Homo sapiens: one gene and its partners. The protein of the gene in region 5 interacts with the protein of the main gene of each other region in a pairwise test. Each region holds a gene or a part of one and is shown on either strand. Other genes may lie near its edges.

Evidence for each region.
Region 1: the proteins of ADRA1A (region 5) and SCN1B interact in a two-hybrid assay, tested with the Homo sapiens proteins (one large-scale study listed by BioGRID and IntAct).
Region 2: the proteins of ADRA1A (region 5) and FLNC interact in a two-hybrid assay, tested with the Homo sapiens proteins (one study listed by IntAct).
Region 3: the proteins of ADRA1A (region 5) and HHATL interact in a two-hybrid assay, tested with the Homo sapiens proteins (one large-scale study listed by BioGRID and IntAct).
Region 4: the proteins of ADRA1A (region 5) and ATP6AP2 interact in a two-hybrid assay, tested with the Homo sapiens proteins (one large-scale study listed by BioGRID and IntAct).
Region 6: the proteins of ADRA1A (region 5) and GPR37 interact in a two-hybrid assay, tested with the Homo sapiens proteins (one large-scale study listed by BioGRID and IntAct).

Annotation. Positions count from the first base shown.
Region 1 is NC_000019.10:35,029,005-35,033,269, forward strand, and holds the start of SCN1B (sodium channel regulatory subunit beta-1 isoform a precursor), read left to right. Parts: upstream 1-1,465; 5' UTR 1,466-1,816; coding exon 1,817-1,856; intron 1,857-2,266; exon of another isoform or gene 2,267-2,776; intron 2,777-3,523; coding exon 3,524-3,690; intron 3,691-4,265. UniProt on the Homo sapiens protein: Regulatory subunit of multiple voltage-gated sodium (Nav) channels directly mediating the depolarization of excitable membranes.
Region 2 is NC_000007.14:128,854,406-128,857,088, reverse strand, and holds part of FLNC (filamin-C), read right to left. Parts: intron 2,677-2,683; coding exon 2,407-2,676; intron 2,315-2,406; coding exon 2,177-2,314; intron 1,891-2,176; coding exon 1,775-1,890; intron 572-1,774; coding exon 439-571; intron 345-438; coding exon 168-344; intron 1-167.
Region 3 is NC_000003.12:42,699,999-42,703,932, reverse strand, and holds the start of HHATL (protein-cysteine N-palmitoyltransferase HHAT-like protein), read left to right. Parts: upstream 1-1,134; 5' UTR 1,135-1,354; exon of another isoform or gene 1,355-1,392; intron 1,393-2,411; exon of another isoform or gene 2,412-2,466; intron 2,467-2,742; exon of another isoform or gene 2,743-2,745; coding exon of another isoform or gene 2,746-2,801; exon of another isoform or gene 2,802-2,821; intron 2,822-3,093; coding exon of another isoform or gene 3,094-3,106; coding exon 3,107-3,212; intron 3,213-3,934.
Region 4 is NC_000023.11:40,597,970-40,601,469, reverse strand, and holds part of ATP6AP2 (renin receptor precursor), read right to left. Parts: intron 2,790-3,500; coding exon 2,736-2,789; intron 1,879-2,735; coding exon 1,729-1,878; intron 709-1,728; coding exon 589-708; intron 1-588. UniProt on the Homo sapiens protein: Multifunctional protein which functions as a renin, prorenin cellular receptor and is involved in the assembly of the lysosomal proton-transporting V-type ATPase (V-ATPase) and the acidification of the endo-lysosomal system.
Region 5 is NC_000008.11:26,770,794-26,773,278, forward strand, and holds part of ADRA1A (alpha-1A adrenergic receptor), read right to left. Parts: intron 1-2,485. UniProt on the Homo sapiens protein: This alpha-adrenergic receptor mediates its action by association with G proteins that activate a phosphatidylinositol-calcium second messenger system. Its effect is mediated by G(q) and G(11) proteins.
Region 6 is NC_000007.14:124,759,293-124,762,792, forward strand, and holds part of GPR37 (prosaposin receptor GPR37 precursor), read right to left. Parts: intron 1-3,500.

The DNA of each region.
Region 1 (4,265 bases), on a different chromosome or scaffold from region 5:
GGCCTCCCAGAATGCTGGAATTACAAGCGTGAGCCACTGCGCCCGGCCTTTTTTTTTGAGACGGAGTTTCGCTCTTGTTGCCCAGGCTGGAGTGCAGTGATGCGATCTTGGCTCACTGCAACCTCTGCCTCCCGGGTTCAAGCGATTCTTCCTCAGCCTCCCAAGTAACTGGGATTACAGGTGCCCACCACCACTCCCAGCTAATTTTTTTTGTATTGTTAGTAGAGACGGGGTTTCACCATGCTCGTCAGGCTGGTCTCGAACTCCTGTCCTCAGGTGATCTGCCCCCCTTGGCCTCCCAAAGTGCTGGGATAGCGGGGGGCGGCTCACATCTGTAATCCCAGCATGGTCAACATGGTGAAACCCTGTCTCTACTAAAAAATAAAAAAATTAGCCAGGCATGATGGTGCACACCTGTACTCCCAGCTACTTGGGAGGTTGCGGCAGGATAATCGCTTGAACCCGGGAGGCGGAGGTTGCAGTGAGACGAGATCAGCCACTGCACTCCAGCCTGGGCAACAGAGCCAGACCCTATCTCAAAAAAAAAAAAAAAAAAAAAAAAAAAAAAAGAACATAATGTCAGGTAGTGAGGCTGCTGTGGAAAACACTCAACAAGAGGTAAAGAGTAAAGGAGGTCAGGTTAGGAGCGGGGAAGGCAGTTTACCCTGAAGGGACACAGAAGACCTGACGAAGGTGACATTGGAGCCATGGAGGCCCACGGAGAGGGGCGGGGCAGGGGGGGAGAGCCGGGGCAGAGGGGAGAGCTGGGGCCAAGGCCCTGAGGCAGGAACGGGTTCCCTGTGTTGGGAACAGCAGGAGGGCCTGAACAGCCAGAGTGGAGTGGGAGGAAAGAGGGGTAGAAGGTGACATCAGGGACATAAATGGGTGCAGGGGATCACGAAGGGGTCCTCCTCCTGAAACAGCACCTCCAGATTCCCGGGGCTGCTTCTCTCCAGGGTGCCCCGCCTGCTTGGGTGAGGTCCGGATTGTAGCTGTAGTCCTAGCCTGACGGCCCCCCACCCTCCTCTAATGCCTACTTGGGGTCCCTGCACATTGACCCCCAGGCCTGGATATCAGGGCTCAGGGGAGATAACTTGGAGGTTCGCCCTCTGGAACTCCTGAGGATGACCTCCATCATTTGAAGTCGGAAACCCGGCCCCCAAACTGCGCTCTAAGTCCTCCTGTGACTCTGGGGGTGACCTTTCCAGACTCCCTGGGAAGGTGGGGGGGGGGGGGTGGTCCTCAGAGCCCCAGCGGGGTCGGAGACACACAGACCACCCTCCCCGTTCCCAGAAGTCGCGGTCCCTGCGCCACCCGGAGAGGCCGGTGCAGCGGGCGCCTCCCGGGCCGCTGCGGCAAAGGCTGGGCGGCCGCGCCTTCCCCCCGCGGTGATTCATCCCGCCCCCTCCCTCTCCTCCCTCGTCCCTCCCTAGGCCGCCGCCGCCGCCGCCGCCGCCGCCGCTGCAGTGCGCAGGAGACCGCGGTCCGCGCCCGAGCGCGCCCGAGCCGGAGCGGGACCGGGGTCGGTGCACCTAGCGGATGTGCCCGGCTGCGCGCGCCAGCGCAGCAGCCCGAGCAGCGGCCGCCGCCCGCGCGGCGGGGATGCCCGGACGCCGGGCCCCGGGGCTGGGCCCCCGGCGGTAACCGGAGCGGGGGGGCCGCGCCCCCCCTCCTCCCCCCTCGCCGGTCCCAGAGCCGCAGCTGCTGCGCCCGCGCGCTCCCGGGGACATTCTAACCGCCGCCAGGTCCCGCCGCCTCTCGCCCCGCTATTAATACCGGCGGCCCGGGAGGGGGGCGCAGCACGCGCCGCGCAGCCATGGGGAGGCTGCTGGCCTTAGTGGTCGGCGCGGCACTGGGTGAGTGCGCGGGGGGCGCGCGCGGCCGGGGGGCACCGCGGGGGCACTGGCGGGGCGGCGGGAGTGGCGCTCGGGACACGGGGCAGCCGCGCGAGGGCCACCCCCGGCCCATCCCCGGGCCCCGCCAAGTCAGCTTCAGAAGTTGTGCGCGCGGGAGCCGGGCTTGGGGAGGGCAGTGGAGGTGAGGGTGGGCTCCAGCGGGTGGGGGCCGGGCTGGCACAGCCTGGCGGCTGCAGGCGCCCAGCCGGGGGCGAGGAAACGCGGAGTCAGCTGCTCCCGGAGCCCCGCAGGCTGCAATGTGACACCCACAGCCGCGGGAGGGGGGTGGGGGGAAGGCGGCGCCCGGAGACTGGGACGGGAAAGACGGAGGGACAGGGAGAGATGAAGACGGGAGGAAGGGGGCGAGAGACAGAGAAGGACTCGGAGCGCACCGGAGTGGTCCGCTGGGATGCTGGGGACATGGGGGTCAAGGGGGAGACGGAGACAGAGAGAGGGGTATTGGAGAGAGAGAGAGAGAGAGAGAGTTAAGAGACTGAGCGCGATGGAGAAAGGGAAACTTGAGAAAGGCAGAAGGAGATGGAGAGAAGAGAGAGGGAGATGCGGGTGCCCGTGAACACCGGGAGAGAATCTTGCATGGAGTTTGAAAAGGGATAGACGTAGAAAGGTGGAAAGAGATTAGGAGAGGTCTCCTTCTGAGCCCAGAGAGTGGACAAAAAGTGGAGGGACCTTCAGAGAGACCCCTGAGAGGGACAAAGATAGGAGGGACTGAGACAGAGGCCCTCAGGGAGTCTGAAAGGGACCGCAGGGGAGGCGGATGGATGAGAAGTCCTGAGGATCAGGAAACAAGGACAGCACAGGGCTGCAGCAGAAGAGACACAGCGTTAGCTACAGAGTGCTGGGAGGCAGAAAGGAGGTGCCAGGTAAGAGTGTGAAGGAATTCTAAGACTGGAATTCAGTGGGCTGCAAAAGCCCTGGGGCAGGAGAGAGCTCAGGAAAGCTTTGAGTAGTGGATGGGGTTGGGGTGGGAAGAGCTCTAGAGGCGAGGAGCCTGGGGAAGAGGGGATGATGGAGGCAGGAGAGGCCGGGGAGGGGATGGCTCACACAGGGGCTTGTGGGCTGTGGAGAGGGGCTGAGTGTGGGTCAGCCCCGGTTTCAGTGCCCACCTCCCCACAATCCCCCACCCCCAGACCTTTTCTCCCAACCCATTTCTCCTGGAGCTAGCTGGTTTTACAATTTAATGGTGAAAATGACTGCCACCTTAAACTTCTAACTTAGCTGGAATTCTCATTCTACCACCTAGATGCTTGGGTTCCTCCAGCAAGGGACTTTCTGAGGAAGGGGCACTCGGGTAGCATAAAGTCTGAGTTACCGGCAACGTTGACAGTCCCACTTATGGGGCCTCCCATGTACAAGGCCCTACCTAATGTATGAAAATGGGCCCAGCCATTGCTGGAAGCAAAGGACCATTTCTTTCAACAAGAGAGAGGGAAACTGAGACTCAGGGATGAATGACTTGCTGAGGTCACGCAGTGAGTGACAGGGCTCAGCCTAGCATCCAGTCCTGTCTGCTGGTAATCATTGAGGGGGGAACAGATGGTTTGTGAGGGGTCTGGCATTGCTTAGGGCAATGGGTGCCTCTGCCTGACCTGAGCCTGCTGTCCCCACAGTGTCCTCAGCCTGCGGGGGCTGCGTGGAGGTGGACTCGGAGACCGAGGCCGTGTATGGGATGACCTTCAAAATTCTTTGCATCTCCTGCAAGCGCCGCAGCGAGACCAACGCTGAGACCTTCACCGAGTGGACCTTCCGCCAGAAGGGCACTGAGGAGTTTGTCAAGGTGTGCGGGTGCCGGGAACGGGCATGGGAGGGCAGGGGTCCACGAGTGGGAGGCGGTGGGGCTGGATCTCAGGGAGGGGGCTTATTTGTTTAATAATATGCTGTGATTGCTGACCTGGATTCAGATTCTGGCTCCACCAGTGGCCAGCTGGTGACCTTGGCCAAGTCAGTGAGCCTCTCTGAAAGTCAGTTTCCTCCTCGGTAAAGACGGGGTGGCGGTGGTCTCTAGCCCATAGGTTTGTGTGAGGACTGAATGCATTGACGCACCTGGCACACGGTTGGCATGAAATAAATGTCAGTGGACTTATTTGGCACCAGCAAACAATGTCTCTGATAGTCATTACGGAGGGAAGACAGAACTGTTTTTTTTAACCTCCTTTAAACTATGTGTGTATTTTGCATTATATATCGGTGAGGGAACCATAAAATTCTGTGACGTGCTGGAGAGTTGGGGTCTCCAGCTGCTGGAATCAGGCTGCCCTGTCTCTGCTGGAGGAGTGTGTCTGGTGGCTGGGAAAGAACGGCAGAGAATGATAGCCTAGAGGCCAGATGGGGCTTGGGAGGATGACTGAGGAA
Region 2 (2,683 bases), on a different chromosome or scaffold from region 5:
CAGGAAGGGCTTGTGGCCCAAGAGGGACTGGGCCCCAGCTCCCTGGACAGCCTCTGTGGGGACTCCTGGCTTAGGAAGCAGGGCCCCTACCTCTGGAGCAAAGCAGCACCAGACTAGTGGCCAAGCACCCCCAGAAGTCACCCTGTTCCCCAGCTCCAGGCACTCACCGGTAGTGCCTCCCTCGAGCCCAGGACCGTAGGCTGACACCAAGCCTGGGTCCCCAGCCTGGCTCTGCTCCCCAACGCGGATCTTGAAGGGACTTCCAGGGATGTGGGCACCGTTGAACTTGACATCGATGGAGTGGACGCCATTCTCGTGGGGGATGAAGCGGATGGTGTGCTTGTCTGTGGATAAAGGGTTGGTGGCTTAGCCTCCATCCTTCCCCTCCCCAGAAGGCCCCAGCCCGGAAGGGAGTTGGCAGGGGCAGGGCCAGCTCACCACTGTCCAGCTCAGAGACGTAGCACTCCTCCACAGCCCCCGAGGGTGTGTGCACCCGGGCATCAATCACGCCCCGGGCACCGTTCAGCTGCACGGCAAAGGACGCTGGCTGGTTCACCTTGAGCCCCGTCTCCTGCAAAGGCCACGGAGGATGCTCAGACTCCTGGGAGGCCGGGGCTGGAGCAGTCTTCTCTGAAGCCCCACACGGTGCTCACTGTAAGCCCAGCCCAAAGGCTGCTGCCACCCCATGCCCAGCCTGGCCCCTGCCTGCCAGCCCAGCCTGGGAGCAGGAGGAGCCAGGGTCCGGTATGCAACCCTATGTGTGCACCTGCTATCCTAGCTGTGCTTGGTGTGTGGGAGATGACAGACGATGTGCCCTGTCCTGGCTGAGGAAGGAAGGGCCCCACTCTGTGTGAAGCAGGCTGAGGGCGGAGGGCAAGTGCCTGATGGGCTGTGTGGGCTGGGGGTGCCAGAGAGCTCTGAGGTAGGAAGCTGAGTTTCACTGGCCTGGCCTGGGAGAGCTTCCTGGAGAAGGTGGACCAACAGGGAGGACCAGAAGAAGCACAGAAGGGCTCTGGGGGAGGGATTGGAGCCTGCATCGGGGAGCCCAGTTCAGGAGTGGGAGGAGGAGATGCACAAGGACTCTGGATGGGCCAATGTGACCACCCTGAGGGGCAGCCAGGAGGCGCGTGGGAGAAGGAGGTGGGGTGAAGCCCATTCTGTGCGCCTTATGCAGAAGCTCCTTTACAATGTGTCCCCTGGACACCTGGCCCCCTGGTTTGCATGTTTCAGTGTGACTTGCTGAAAGCCTTCCTTGCACATGTCCGCTGTGACAGAATGAAAGGAACACACCACATCTCTAGAAGTCAGCAGCAAGAGAAAGCAAGCCAGGCCCCCAGCGGCCTGAAGAGGATGCAGCCCAGGCTCTGCAGCCCATAGGCATTCCCTTTAGAGGAGCCTCTCACACCCTCTGTGCAAACTGGTTTACTCTTAGTTTGTATAGATTTTATGCTCTCATTCTTATAAATGTTGTCATCTAGCATTCTTACAACAGAAGGTGGAACAAACTGTAACAAGAAATGGCAGGTGGCAGTAGGACAGGCAGACACACCCTGAGAAAGGCAGAACGAGGCGTGGCATGCCTGAGTGCACGGGCAAGCCCCCAGGGTGGGAGCCCACCGTCCCCAAGGGCCCTGCCTCGTGCCTTATGAGAAGGGACTCCTAACTGGCCCTTCCAAGGTCACTGCTAAATCCCTGGCCCCATGGACCTGCTGTCCTCAACTCCTGCCCATCTCTCAGATAGCAGAAACCCTCCACCCCCACCCTGGGCACAAACCTGGAGGCTGGTGACAGTGAGACGGCGAGCGTCATCCGAGAGGGAGGCCACAGGCACCACAAAGGGGCTGTCTGGGATGTGCTCATCATTGAACTTGATGGAGACCTCATAGTCACCTGGGGAGAGAGACCAGTCAGCACAGGTTCCGGGATGGAGGTTGGCAGGGCGGGAGCCTCCCCACCCTGGCCTTATCCCAGGAAAGGCTCTGTGGTCAGCGCTCAGATCTGGAGGCAGACACATGTTTCTGAGGGTGTGGGGTAGAGGGAGACGGGGCAGAGGAAGAGCAGGGGGCTCCGGGGAGGGGAGTTCTGTGGCCCCAAGCATCTCCTGCCTGGCCAGTGGGCAGAAACCCAGTCTGGAAGGTCAGGCAGGCCCAGCCCCACTGCCAGTGTGGACGCCCACCTGGTTCCTGGACGACATAGGAGACGCCGCAGGAGCCATCTTTGCGATCCTCAAATGCAATCTCCGCTTTGCTAGGACCCTCCACAGCAATGGACAGGCCCCCAGCGCCAGCCTCCCGGGTCCAGATGCTGAACTCGGCTGGGGACAGGCAAGGTAGTGGACTTCAGCATCATCGCCCCTCACACTGGCTGCCCTGACTTCATCCCCACTCCTGGCCACCTGCCCCTTACCTGGCACGCCGGCCACACCTCGCTCCAGCCCTGTGCCTCCGGCCCGCACCTTGTGGGCACCACCTTCACCCAGCGGCCCCACAGTGAACTGAAAGGGGCTGCCGGGCACGTGCTGGCCACGGTACTTGACAGCGACCGTATGGGGCCCCATTTCCTGGGGCACAAAGCGCACGCTGTAGGCGCTGTCCTCGCCCTCGACGATCTCTGCGGCTTCCACCTTGCCCGATGGGCTGGTCACCTGTGCAGTCATGTCCTGAGAGCTGGCCTCACCTGCAGG
Region 3 (3,934 bases), on a different chromosome or scaffold from region 5:
TCTCAGGGTCGGGGACCACAGACACGGGCCTCTGTGTCCTGTGTGGAGTGTGTAGGTTGGGCGTCTCCTTGCTGTTCTCCAGGCCAGCGTGTCTATGTGCTCGGGAGGCAGCTCCCTGCCTAAGTGCAGTCTCTCCCCTTCCTGGGCCCTGATGGGTGGGGAGCAGCACCTCCCTCCTGCCTCCTCAACTGAGCCTGAAGCTGGGGTCATAGGATCAGCAGGGGCTCCAGGAGCTGTCCTGTGACTGATCACAGCCACAAAGCTCCTTCTACCCCCGAGAGCCTCCCCACAAGCACACAGGTGAACAGGTCCCCCTAGATAGCACAGACACATACAGCTGCCCGAGACTTGGCCTCAACCGAAGGGGCACTGTCAGAGGTTCTTAATCTCAGGGGCACCTTCAGGATGCCCCTCCCCTCAGGTATCCAGGGCTGAGGCCTTGGATGCTCCCTTCCAGAATGAGGGCCCTGTCCTACCAGGACTCCCAGTTGGTTAGGAACACACCTGTCTTCCTGTCTGCCTCCACTCTGCCACCGAGAGGATACCAGCCATTCCAAGTACCCACAAGCCTTGCCAAGTGACCCTGCTAGCACCCCTCCATCCAGGACACTCCCTATGGGACAGGGCTGACTTATGGGGATCCCTCTCAGCCACATGTCCCATGCCAGTTCCAGTCCCATCAGGCAAGTCAGCCCTCCCTCAGGCACTGATGCATGGCCAGCCAGGACTCACGGCATAATGAAAAGGACCAGGTCATGGGGCGAGACAAGTCTGCCCTGGGATAGCCCTTAGGAGGTCATATGTAAAGGTAGGAGCTGGAGTCCCTGGAGCCCAAGCATGAAAGTGTTTGCATGTTGTGACTGTGTGTGTCTGTGGTGGGGGCAGGGCTTACAAGCCTGGAGAGGCTGGTGGGACCACCAGGAGTCTTCCTGGAAGAGGGAAGTCCTGGGTAGCAGTGAGAGAGAGGCACAGGCTCTCTAGGAGCCAGGGGAGGCAGGCTGAAGAGAGGCCCAGGTGTCCCTGTCTGAGCCTATGCTACTGGACACCCTCCCCCCACCCAGCACCCGCCCCCCTTCAAGGATCCTCCCTGCGGCTCCCTGTGGCCAGCAGCTCTGCAGCACTCGGCTCTGCTCCACTCTGCTCAGCTCCGCTCCAGGAAGGCCACCTCCTCCTCCCCCTCCTCCTCCCGCTGTCACCACTCACCGCTCATAACCTCAAGGGGGTGGGGACCCCAGGGCTGGACACACCCCACCGTGGCCCCAGAGCTCAGCCGGTCGCACGGACGGACAGTTGGAAGCCGGACCCCAGAGCCTGAGGTGGGCAGTGTGCCAGGGTCCCTTGCGGCCTCCTCAAGGTCAGTGCCAGCTGGGGATGCAGCTACTCTGGGGCTCTTGAGACTTGTGGGGCACACCCCAGGCCCTCATCCCAAATCACAGGCCCCAAAAGGGGCTTTACCCCCGGGGCATCTGGGGCAGGCAGGACCAGGGGAAAGGGTATGCCCCCGTGTCCACAGGCCAGCCCTGGTCTGGGGGTCTATCAGGAGAGGCCCCAGGCTGGGGGCCAGCTCCTTGCAGAGGCCTCACTGGGGACACCCCGCACCGGCCATGGGGAGCTAAAATTGGAAAGTGGCGAGTGGGAGGCAGCTGACAAAGCTATTTCACGGGCTCTTCACCATGCTCCGGTTTCAAGCTCCTGCTCCATTAACCTGATCCCCAGGGCCTCTCCACCCCCACCCAACTGATGAGGAGGTGCCTCCACCCTCAGGCCGACAGCACAGCCATCAGGCTGGCAGCCTCTGCTGTGGGCAGGGGCAGTGGTGGTCTTCTCTTACCCCAGATTCCAGAGGGGGGTCACTGAGAAACCCAATCCTGAAGGGAGGCAGGCAGAAGTCTGTCCCAGGTCTGCCATGTGACCTTGACAGGTCCCTGCCCCTATCTGGCCCATGACCCCTCCATCTGTACGAGGAGACCGTCGGCTGCTGGGGGGCCCAGGGGAGATGGCTACAGGGCTGGGGATGAAGATTTAGGGGAGGATCAAGGGTGGGCAAAAGGGCCACATCAGCCACCTCTTGGCCCCGTCAGCCCAAGAGTTGCCTGGACATGTTCCCTGCTTCCTCCCTTTAATTTGGGTCCTATGTCTGTATCCATGGAGTCCTTGGGAAGCCCCTGAGCCAGGCTGAAGCGGGATAGGAAGGGTAAAGGTGCTAGCTGAGCCGTAGTACGGCCCAGCAGTTCTCCAGGGGACAAGCTAGGCCCCCGCTGGAGGGAGTGGTGAGACTCAGCCGGGGCCTGATTCTGGTCAGCACCTTGGACAGCAGCCAGTGCCCTCCCTGGCCCCGCCTGGCCCCGCCTGGCCCCACATCCGCTACTCCTGGGCACCTCCTCAAATAGCACAGCCTCCAGCTGGTGCCCAGGGCCTGAATACACAGAGCGCTGAGAGAGTGGGGCAGTGTGGTCACGGACACAGGCAGGGACTGGGATGTGACAGGCTGGAGCTCAGGGACTTGTTGGGGGAATGGGGGTCAGTGACAGGCTGGAGGCTTAATGCGAGGATGGAGGCTTGGCTCTAGGGGCAGCACCTGGGGTGGTCATGGGATCTCAGGGAGGGGAGTGGGAGTCAGAGAAAGGGTCTTAGAGAAGCTGGGGCTTTGTGAGGAGCTAAGGGAGACTCACTGATCGAGGTGGGGACCCTGCAGGCAGAAACCTGACTGTAGTGATAGAGGTGGGGTTTCTCCGCACGCAGGTCATGGGGGCCTTGGCAGGAGCGGTTTTGGCAGAGGGTGGGGCCGGTGCCTCTGGAAGGTATGAAGATGTAAATGAAGGTGAGGGAGGCAGGCTGCGAGTGAGGGCTCTGCGGGCAAGAGCCTTGATGGGTGGGGTGGGGGCAAGAGCAGCAGCTGGGATGGGGCACTGGTGTTCGGTGGCCTGTGAACTGTGGGGGGCACAGGGGCAGGCAGAGTGATGGTACAAGGTCCCCAAGGGGCTGGAGGGGCAATCTCTCTTCAGAGTGGGTCCCCACTGGGGTGGTGGGACCATGAGGTGGGGCTAGGCTTGGCTGGAGACTGTAATTCCCTCACCCAACCTGTCTCCCCAGCCCTGTCCAGGCTATGGGCATCAAGACAGCATTGCCGGCGGCTGAGCTGGGCCTCTACTCTCTGGTGCTGAGTGGGGCCCTGGCCTATGCTGGCCGGGGCCTCCTTGAGGCTTCACAAGGTAATGGCTGTGCCCCGGGGCAGGTGGACAGGACCCTTCTTCCCCTGGAGGCCTCAGGGTTCCAACCAGCAAAGCCAGAAAGTTACAGGCTCCAGACCTAGGGTACTCCTTCTAGAACACGGCTGGATCTCCCTTTTCAGCCCGGGGTTCCCATCTCAGATAGTCACTGGAGGCTGGGTGGAGCCAGGTTCAGTCACAGGAACACAGAGATGCAGAGACACTGACAGAGAGATGGACACAGAGTCACACACATAGACACACACACACACACACACAGAGGCCTGGACCCAGACACACACACACAGAGACCTAGACCCAGACATACACACACACACATCCCGACACACACACACACACACAGAGACCTAGACCCAGACACACACACAAACACACAGACATATACACACACCCCCCAACACACACACACACACATACACACACAGAGACCTGGACCCAGACACACACACACAGAGAGAGACCTGGATGCAGACACACACACAAACACACAGACATATACACACACACCCCAACACACACACACACACACACACACACAGAGTCCTGGACCCAGACACACACACACAGAGACCTAGACCCAGACATACACACACACACATCCCGACACACACACACACACACAGAGACCTGGACCCCGACACACACACAAACACACAGACATATACACACACACCCCAACACACACACACACACACAGAGTCCTG
Region 4 (3,500 bases), on a different chromosome or scaffold from region 5:
CATACCCAAAAAAACTGTTAAGTAAATCAAAATCATAAAGAGGTGCACACAGAGGATCTCAGTAAGTGAGGGACTACGCCACAAAGACAATGTGCCTGCTAGAAAAGCAGAGCCCATAGGATGTGGGCACCACACCACTCCCGCACACATTCACTTCTTTTTGTTTTCAAAACAGGGTCTTGCTATGTTTCCTCAGACTGGCCTCAAACTCCTCCTGAGCTAAAGCAATCCTCCTGCCTTGGCCTCCTGAGAAGCTGCAATTACAGATGCACGCCACTGCACCTGGCGCCACATTAACTTCTGATATCTCCTTGTGTGTACTGATATTTGAATTATAATCTTGGACAGATTTACTTTTATCCCTAATTCAAATTCTTGCATTATCTGATTATAACCCTAAAGAACTGATCATCACTGGCAAAGCACACATATGTATGTGAACAAGAAGCTTACGTTTTAACTGAAATTGTTTTTCAGATTTACTGACTGCTCATTCATGTCACCCTTAGGTGATATAGGACTTGGTTTTTTTTTTTTTATAAGAAGTTAATTTTACAGTTTTAAAGCAGGATCTCAAAATATACTCACCGCTTGTTTTGCCTCAAGGATAGTCCTTGTCTTCCTAATGAGGGAGGTGTCAAATGACTTGACAGTGACTAACTCTACCACTGCATTCCCACCATAAAGACTGTACATGTCATCTGCAAACTGAAAGTTAGTTATTAACATTATTGGGAATCTCAACTATGTACTTTTTTCATTTTTAATTAACAAATTAAAATCATATATATTTATCACATCAACATATTGTTTTGAAATATGTACACATTGTGGAATGGCTTAAGTCCACATTGGCTAATTAACATATGCATTACCTCCTACTTATCATTTTATGCAGTGAGTCAAATACATACTTATTAAAATTATTTTTAAAGCTTTTGTGCAGCTACAAGAACAATGTACACTTACCTCCTGGCTCATGAAATATACTACATCTTACAATAAGCAAGTCTTAAAGGTTTTGATTTTGCTCAACTATACAGAAAAGTGTTAAGCTTTAACATATATTCAAATGTTTAGACTAAAATTACTTTAAGAAGAGACTGAATTTGTCAGCATATAAATTGGAGGAAGGGAAGTTGGAAAGAGAAATGAAATCTTCCTAAGTGGTCTCTGGTTAATCACAAACATCTATAAAGATTAAAATATGAAGCCTCACTGAAAGGATGCAGGTGAAGAACTTCAAGGGCAGAGGGGAACTAGCATTTATTATGCATCTACTGTCTGGTACTGTGCTGGGTGTTCTACTTCAGTTATCTCATAGTGTTTAAGGAGTACAGAGTTTCAGTTGGGGAAGAAGAAAAAGTTCTAGAAATAGAAGATGGTGATGGTTGTACAACATGTGAACGTACTTGCACTTAATACCACTGAACTGTACAATTAAAAATGGTTAAAGTGGTAATTTTATGTTATATATATTTTACCACAATAATTTTGTAAAGCTTTGTGTGAGATAACTTTTCCTAATGCTGTTCTTTCTAGCATTAGGAAGAAATATATCAATATACATTTTTGACCCTACTCCATCCTTGGCCAGTATAATTAGAGGAGCCCCAAAGAAGGCAAATAAGAGTTCAATCAACAGTGTTTGAAACAGCAGATTTTTCTATTAAGAGGCTAAAAGTGAAATGGTCATACTCCAACCTCTCATGTCGCATTGATATTTACCTTTTGCAGAGCGTCAACAAGGATCTTAGAAGCATCTCTGAATTGTTCAGAGTCTTCCCCATAACGCTTCCCAATTTCATCCAAACCTGCCAGCTCCAGTGAATATAAATCAGGAGAATGATCCTTGGCTAGATGCTTATGACGAGACAGCTTAGGAGAACAAACAAACAAAAAAAGGTAGCGGATAAAGTAAGATGAAAGACGTCAAACACAGCCAGTTAAAGTTTTATGCCTAACTAAACTAGGCTAAACTAAACCATACCAGTGTACCACAACATGCAAATAGTCTAAAATGGTGGCAAAAGAAACTGGTTTGAATAAGCGTTTCTGATAAATCCAACACGAATCTCATGTTTAGGAGCAGTACAAGACTCCTTGGATATTTAATAAAAGCTTTCAACAAAATTCCTCAGTTTTAAAAACTCAGGTATGGGCCAACGTATGAAAGAACAGATGGCTGGACCAGTTTGATCCCAGGAATGCACTACACTTCCAGACTCCCCGAACCAACACCTGTTGAAAAAGTTTGGAAAACAACTTCAGAAGGTAGCAAACAGATAAGAATTTCTATTTCAGTAACAAGGATGATTTTTAAAAAATCATTCACCAAAAAAATACCCTTCAGACGGATTTCGTCCCTTCTTGACTTGACTGACAGCATTATTAGTCCAAACTATTATTTCTATTTTAGGCCCAAAGATATAGATAGGAATTAAGTCTCACAAGAAATCAACAGCCAAGTTAGGACTATGGCCAGGGTGTTCTTACGCCCAGGCTTGTGTTCTTGGAAGATATGTTGTCTCTCCCTAAAAAGCAGAAATGCAAAATAATTTGACTATAACATGGATGTGTTCAAAATTCCCAATATTGCCACTAATTTTTCAATTTTCATGGGATCATAAATCTAGGGCATACTTAATCAAACTTTTCAACTGCCTTTACTATTATTCAAGGATTCTCTAGAAACCAAAATAAATGGAATTAAAAAATTAGAGCAGCCTACTTACCAAGCTTGAAATATCATGTAGCACTTGCAGTTCAGAAAGAAAGAGCAGGTCAACCTTCAGAGAGCCCAAAAAAAAAGAGCATTCTTTTAAATGTGCACCAGAGATCTTTATTTGCCATTTACCAAGCAAGGCACAGGATATTACAAATGTTGATCATATAAGTGAATTTATATAATTATCTTCCATTTGGTATGTTTGCTTCAATTGAAAATGCATATAAAACATTATTTCCTAACAAAAAGGTGATGGCCATTCCCTAGCACAGTGACTGCCACTCAATAGCTATATTTTTGGCAAAACCATGATAAAGCATCCAAGTTCTCCAGTGGTTTTCCTTCAAAGCATCAGGATATCCTGGCACTCTGCAATGACATCCTACCATTGGCCCAGTTTGCTCACTTCCCTTGAATAGTTTCCACATCAGAGAATAAAGGATGATGGCCCTGGTCATCCACAGCAAATAAAAAGGGGAGGCCACCACGAAAGTGGCATGCCACATGGTTAAGAGGGCGCATGAGCAGATGGAGAAACTGAAGGACAGGAGTCAAAAGTAGAGGTGGCTCCCTCCACTGCAATGTCCAGAATGAATGAGAAAAATGTGGCAACAAATCAGCAGAGGCAGTGAACAATGGCTTCCAAGTTACCAGATCCACACAGCTCCACCAGTCACCAAGTAGATCTATGACCTCTGGCTTGTTTGAATTAATAGGTGGCAACCCTCGTGCTAAAATGTGATGTTATTTACCACAGCTCAACTCACAAAAA
Region 5 (2,485 bases):
TTCTCACATTTGACTGACTAGCTCCTATGACTGTCACCCTTTTGCAATATCTTCAAAGACCATTCCTACTTGGTCCGCGTGTGTCATTAATTACAGGAGCAGGCCCAGTGGGTAGGGTTGCACTGGCTCTCAGTGACCAACAGCTGCTGTGAAGTTTTACCAAATGAAAATGTGAAACTCAGACTGAGTCCACATATGTAAATTGTTTTGCCTAAATTGAAAAGTAAGTTGGAATCCATGCAAGTAATCCATATTAAAATTCGGTTATCTGAACATGCCCTTTATTCTCTGATGCAGTGTTATGCAACAGACACAGCCTCAGTGTTTATGAATTCCTCCCCTCCCAAATGTTAGAATTATGGATTTTGATGAGAATCTCAACTTTACACAATATTGGCCTTGCCAAAGTTGGGCCAGTGATTCTCAATCACTTTTCCTAGATGATGTCTTTTGATGTCACCGTTAGCTCCCTTTGTCAATATCCCTCGATGTCTCCCAAATGTGTGTCTTTGCTTCACATTCGGAGTCCTCCACAGCCTCTGGTCTAACCAGCTTTCTAATATGACTAGTTGCTATTTTTTCTCTAGCCAGACTCACTACACTTTTTCTCCAGGTCATTGATCATTTTTTTTGTCCTCTCAAGTTGGGCCACTGTGTCCTTGATGCCCTTTTCCACCTTCTCTACCTACCCAAACCCTACCCGTTGATGTGCACGGCAGGAACCAGGCCTCAGGACCCGTCACATCCTGCGCAGAGACTGCCACAGGGCATTTCGCAGCAGAAGAACAAAACTGTGAAGTCTTAAAATGGAACAACCTTAAGGATTATCTCCTCCAATTACTCAATTTACAAATTTAAAAAATGCTTATTTAGCCTTTTCCCAGCTGCCGCCAAGATGCTCTGCCCTTCTGAGCTGAGGCTGCGTTGGGGTCAGGCCCTCACTGCATCCAGCACTAGCACTACTCCGGGCAGCCCAGCCTTGCACTTGTCCACACCACGGACTCCATCTCAGAGCTCGCCTGCACTGACTCAGCCCTCATTCTGTATAACGCTGAGGGGATCATCACATAGGATAAGGTCAATGTCGTTTCTAAAGCAGCTGGGGTAAATGATGACGGCTTTTGGCCTGGCTTGTCTGCCAAGGCCCTGGCCATCGTCAACTTCGGGAGCCTCCTCTGCAGTGGAGGGGCGGGGTGGGAAGACCTGCTCAGCAGCTGGTGGTGTACCTGCGGGAGGTCCTGCCCTTCTGTCACTGTGGCCTAGGCCGAGAAGAAGAAGGTGGAAGCAAAGAAAGAAGAATCTGGAGTCTGATGATAATATGGGCTTTTTTTTTTTTTTTTTGAGTAAACCTATTTTATAACACGTTCAATAAAAAGCTGAACTCTTAAAAATGCTTATTAAAGAGATTGTCACAAACCTCATAGCTACAATACTGATAAGAGTGATGGATAAAGGGTATGGGACTCCCAATCCAATGTTCTTTATTCTCTGATTCTCAGACTTCCAAGGGCTTTTGCTAAAGGAGCTTTATGAATTATGAAATCCCAAACGTCCCTCTTCACTCCTTTCAGAGAAATTGCAAAATAACATCTTGACTTTCCTTCCACCTCCTTTCTTTTCTTTCTTGGCTCCCAAGCTCCTTTTCCTTCTCCGCGGGCTTTTAGTCACAGCTTCGTGTACAGTTGGTAGAATGGCTTTGGGAAACTCCTATGATGCCTTTGGGCCTCCAGTTTTCTTATCTGAAAAAGGAGTATGTTGAATGGATGATTCCTAATGGCCCTGAACAATTTTTTTGTTGCTGTTGTTTCAAACCTAAGGTCTTGATTTTATGTCTTTCTTTTCCTCTCTGCTCTGTGGACCTATCAGAGCCGTGACAAATTGCTGGTGCTATTAAAATCCACTCTGGCAAACAGTGCTCTGAAATTAAGTCAAAAAGCTCATCAATATAAACAAAGAGTAAACTTAAATACTGAAGAACCCAAAGAAGACACAATAGTGTGGTTGTTGATGGGAGCATTTATTACCTCTGAAGCACACTCCCTGCTAAGTTCCATGTGTCTCAAATTCACACACACACACACACACACACAATGGGTGTTTATTTGGAAAACATGTAAAGTGAGAAAGTTTTATTCTTTAGCTCTAAAGCTTTTCATGTTGTCCTATAATTATAATAAAGTTTACAGTCTTTGAATGCCTGATTTGAAACAGGCAAGGCACTGTGCTGAACACTTTCCATATGATTTAATCATCGTTAGTAACATGAAGAGTTATGTGACTCTTCCCTATTTTACAAATGAAGAAACTGTGGCTTAATGAGTTTGAGTAGCTCAACCGAGGTCACTCACATAGTTACTGGTAGGTTTGAAATTAGGCAGTGTGATTGATTTCAGGGCCCATGCTCCTTTGTGGAATCTCCAAATATACTGCAATAATACATCTCTTAGGAGGATAGCTGATGGGGAGTGATAAAGTGTGCAGCTGG
Region 6 (3,500 bases), on a different chromosome or scaffold from region 5:
CTGGGCTTAAGCAATCTGCCTGCATAGGCCTCCCAAAGTGCTGAGATTACAGGGGTGTGCCACCACACCTGGCCCAAATTATTTGGTTTTAAACACTTGTTAGATTCCTAAGTGAATGGTAGGTATGGTAGAGAACTCCTCTGCCATTCTCCTATTGCAATCCACACCCACACATATCTCCACCTCCCCTAATACACATAAAAGCACACTACATATACAAGTTTTGTTTTGAGTATAGTTTTTTTCTTGTGGCTAAGTAATAAACCACTTTAAACTGATGTGTCTAGGAGGACGGCCATGATCTATCCAAATTTTCTTCTCTCCTATCTGGCATTTCCTACCATTTCATTTGTCCTTCGACTTTATGAGATTTATTATTAGGCCATAAAGATGTCATAATCCTGGAATAGAAAGGGAAAAGTCATCAACTACAACAGTTCCCAGAACATTCTCACTCACGGCAATATTAAACATCATAAAACTTCCTTTCTCACAATAGACCTTGGAAGCTGGGTGCTATCCTCAAGCTTTAGGCCAACAAATTAAAATAGAAAGAGGAGTTGAATGAAAATTAGAAAAAGTATAGTTTTTACTCAAGAAGTACCTCATATTTTTCTACACAAACCCAAATCTTCCCCAAAATCCCACGATTCCCTTCAGATTATGCTAACGCTCAAGCTGTACAGGAGAAAGAACTGTGGTAGAAAAGAAAAATAAAGCAAAAGAGAAGCTGGGAGAGAAAAATTATAAAATTCAATCATAATCTATTGAGAATAAAATTTAAAATTAACTACGAAAAAATTAAAAATAAAAACACTGAAAAAGGTTAAACATCTTACTGGAAAATGGTGAATGCTACATCATAAATCTATAAGAAGGTATTATACATAGTTAAAGAAAGGAAAAATAGCCAAGAAATAAAATAAGAAAGTAACAAGTGAAGGAATGGCAAAATTTAGAAATATGAAAGTAGACAAGATGTCAAAAAATTTTTAAAAGTCTTGAGGTCAGAGGCAAAATTTTGGAAGGGGATTTGGAGAAAGTTTGAACAAATGTAATGTACTTGTAATGTCCTTCACCAATCTAACATACTTCATGATTTTAAGAACATAAAATTTAACCTATATAACTTTTTGGTCATTAAAGTCATCATGCTAGGCAAATTAAAAAGTATAGTTGTCTCAGATTACTGCAATTTAAAAAATTTTAATTAACTACCAATTGCAGAACTTACTGACAGTTTATGAGAAACAAAAGAAGCTATACATTTCATTATATAACAAATGATGTTTACGGGTTTTTATTTTTTCCTGTCTAGTGGATTAAAAAAAGAAAAAATTTTTCAGATGCCAAGGAGCGGAAAGGAAAAGAAAACACTCACTGGATAAAGCTTGTGCTTCATACAGGTTGGTCTAATCAGCAAATATAAACATGAAGCATTGAGACCAAGGGTCTGGTGGCTACTGACCAGGTATATATGTTTAGGATAGTCTCTGAGCTTCAAATTTCATCTTTAAAATGAGGGAGTTGGATTAGAACATTATCTATGTCTGATTTAACATGATTGTTCAAAAGCTACTGTAAGCTGGGCGTGGTGGCTCACGCCTGTAATCCCAGAACTTTGGGACGCAGAGGTGGGCAGATCACAAGGTCAGGAGATCAAGACCATCCTGGCCAACATGGTGAAAGCCCATCTCTACTAAAAATACAAAAAAAATTAGCCGGGTGTGGTGACACGCACCCGTAGTCCCAGTTACTTGGGAGGCTGAGGCAGAATAGCTTGAACCCCTGAAGCAGAGGTTGCAGTGAGCTGAGATCGTGCCACTGCACTCCAGCCTGGTGACAGAGCAAGACTCCGTCTCAAAAAAAAAAAAAAAAAAAAAGCTACTGTAGTGGATGCTGTGGTTTTCCACCCAGACAGCTCCCTCCAAAGTCCTTCAAGAATGAAGCACTGATTCCTCCAGCTGCTGGGGCTATTGGTTGACAGTGCTTAGCTGCATCCCTCTCTAGGAATTGCCCTTGACCAAAGAGATCCACCCAACTCAAGGTTATACCCCATCCTGGGAGCAGGCTTGCATCCAATGTCTTACATCTAATGACTGGTCCATAAAGAGATGTAAAGGCTGAGCCCTCTTGCCTCAATTTGGGATATGGCTGCATGGCCATCCCAGCCCTAAAGCTCCTAATGGTGTCAGCTGAGGTCTCTGTGGCAATTGCATCACAGTTCAACTTCTCCCTTTGCCCGCCCAATCCTGCTTTCTTCTTTCCTTAATAGGTTGAACCTGAGAGCACAACCCAATAAACTTGATGCCCCAATAAATCTACATCTCAGGGCCTGTTTTTGCAGGAACCCAACGTAGGAGAAACCCTAAATACCTCTTACTTTTGTGAAAACATCAGTGCCTCCTGGAGACACACTTTTATTTTGAGATTTGGACTGTAGTTCTTGTTCTCAGTAATCAGGAATTATGAAGCCAGCAATATTGTCCAATAATTATTTTTATAAACCATTCTAAAATTATTTCAGAGTAATAAGGATTAGGTAGAAATATAGAAATGCTACATATTAAGATGTTCATTCACTATTTTAACAGTAAAAATGTATATTATACTGTAATTTTAAAAAATAAATGAGTGAATTTTTTAAGCCTTTGATTCTCTAAGAAAAATAAATGCTAGCACTAATAACTGAAAAATAGAGAAAGCTACTAGGATGGGGAAAAGTTAAGCAAAAATACAGAAAGTAAAAGATTTTACTAATAATAAGAGGCAAAAAACAAAGCACTCTTAAGGAGGAGCTGATTAAATTAAAAAGTGAAATACAAATGAAAGAAAGTATTACATTTGTACAAACTCAGAATTACGGAAAAAGAAAATTAAAATAAGTACATAATAAATGCCATTGCTCAAAATGCTTATATCTCATTAAATTAACCAAAGTTTTTATAATCTTTCCTGAATTTGATATTCTTTTCTTTTAAGGTGTTCTTTCAAGAACTTTGGTGTTTTTATTTTTCTTTCCCCAATTTCCTTTTTCTGTCCTATTGTTTTTCCCTCTAGTGTATACAGATTTCTACATGTCCAGTACATTTCCAGTGAGATAAGCCAATACACTTCTCTGTCATTGAGGTACCTCTCTTGTCCGCTTTATACTTTTGTCTCTTTCTTGCATAAGTCAATTTCTTCTGATAAAAAAAAAAAAAGAAAAAAAGAAATTTGAAACTGACCTTGAAGAGGCAGTTTGGTAAATAGACACATATTCTCTAACATGAGTTCAACTGGCTCCTTCACAATTCAAAAATGAATTGTCTACCAAACAAAGTAGATGTTTCAGAGATACGCCAAGCTTGGCAACAGGAGAAATCATGGACGCTGCTAAAGCAGCAACAGCTGATTTCATAGTCATGGAATGATCCTGCACCTGATCCCTGTCAAGATAACAGAGGGTCTTATTTACTGTCTCCAGCTTTGGTCCGTCTAAGTAGGTACTGTTTTCTGTT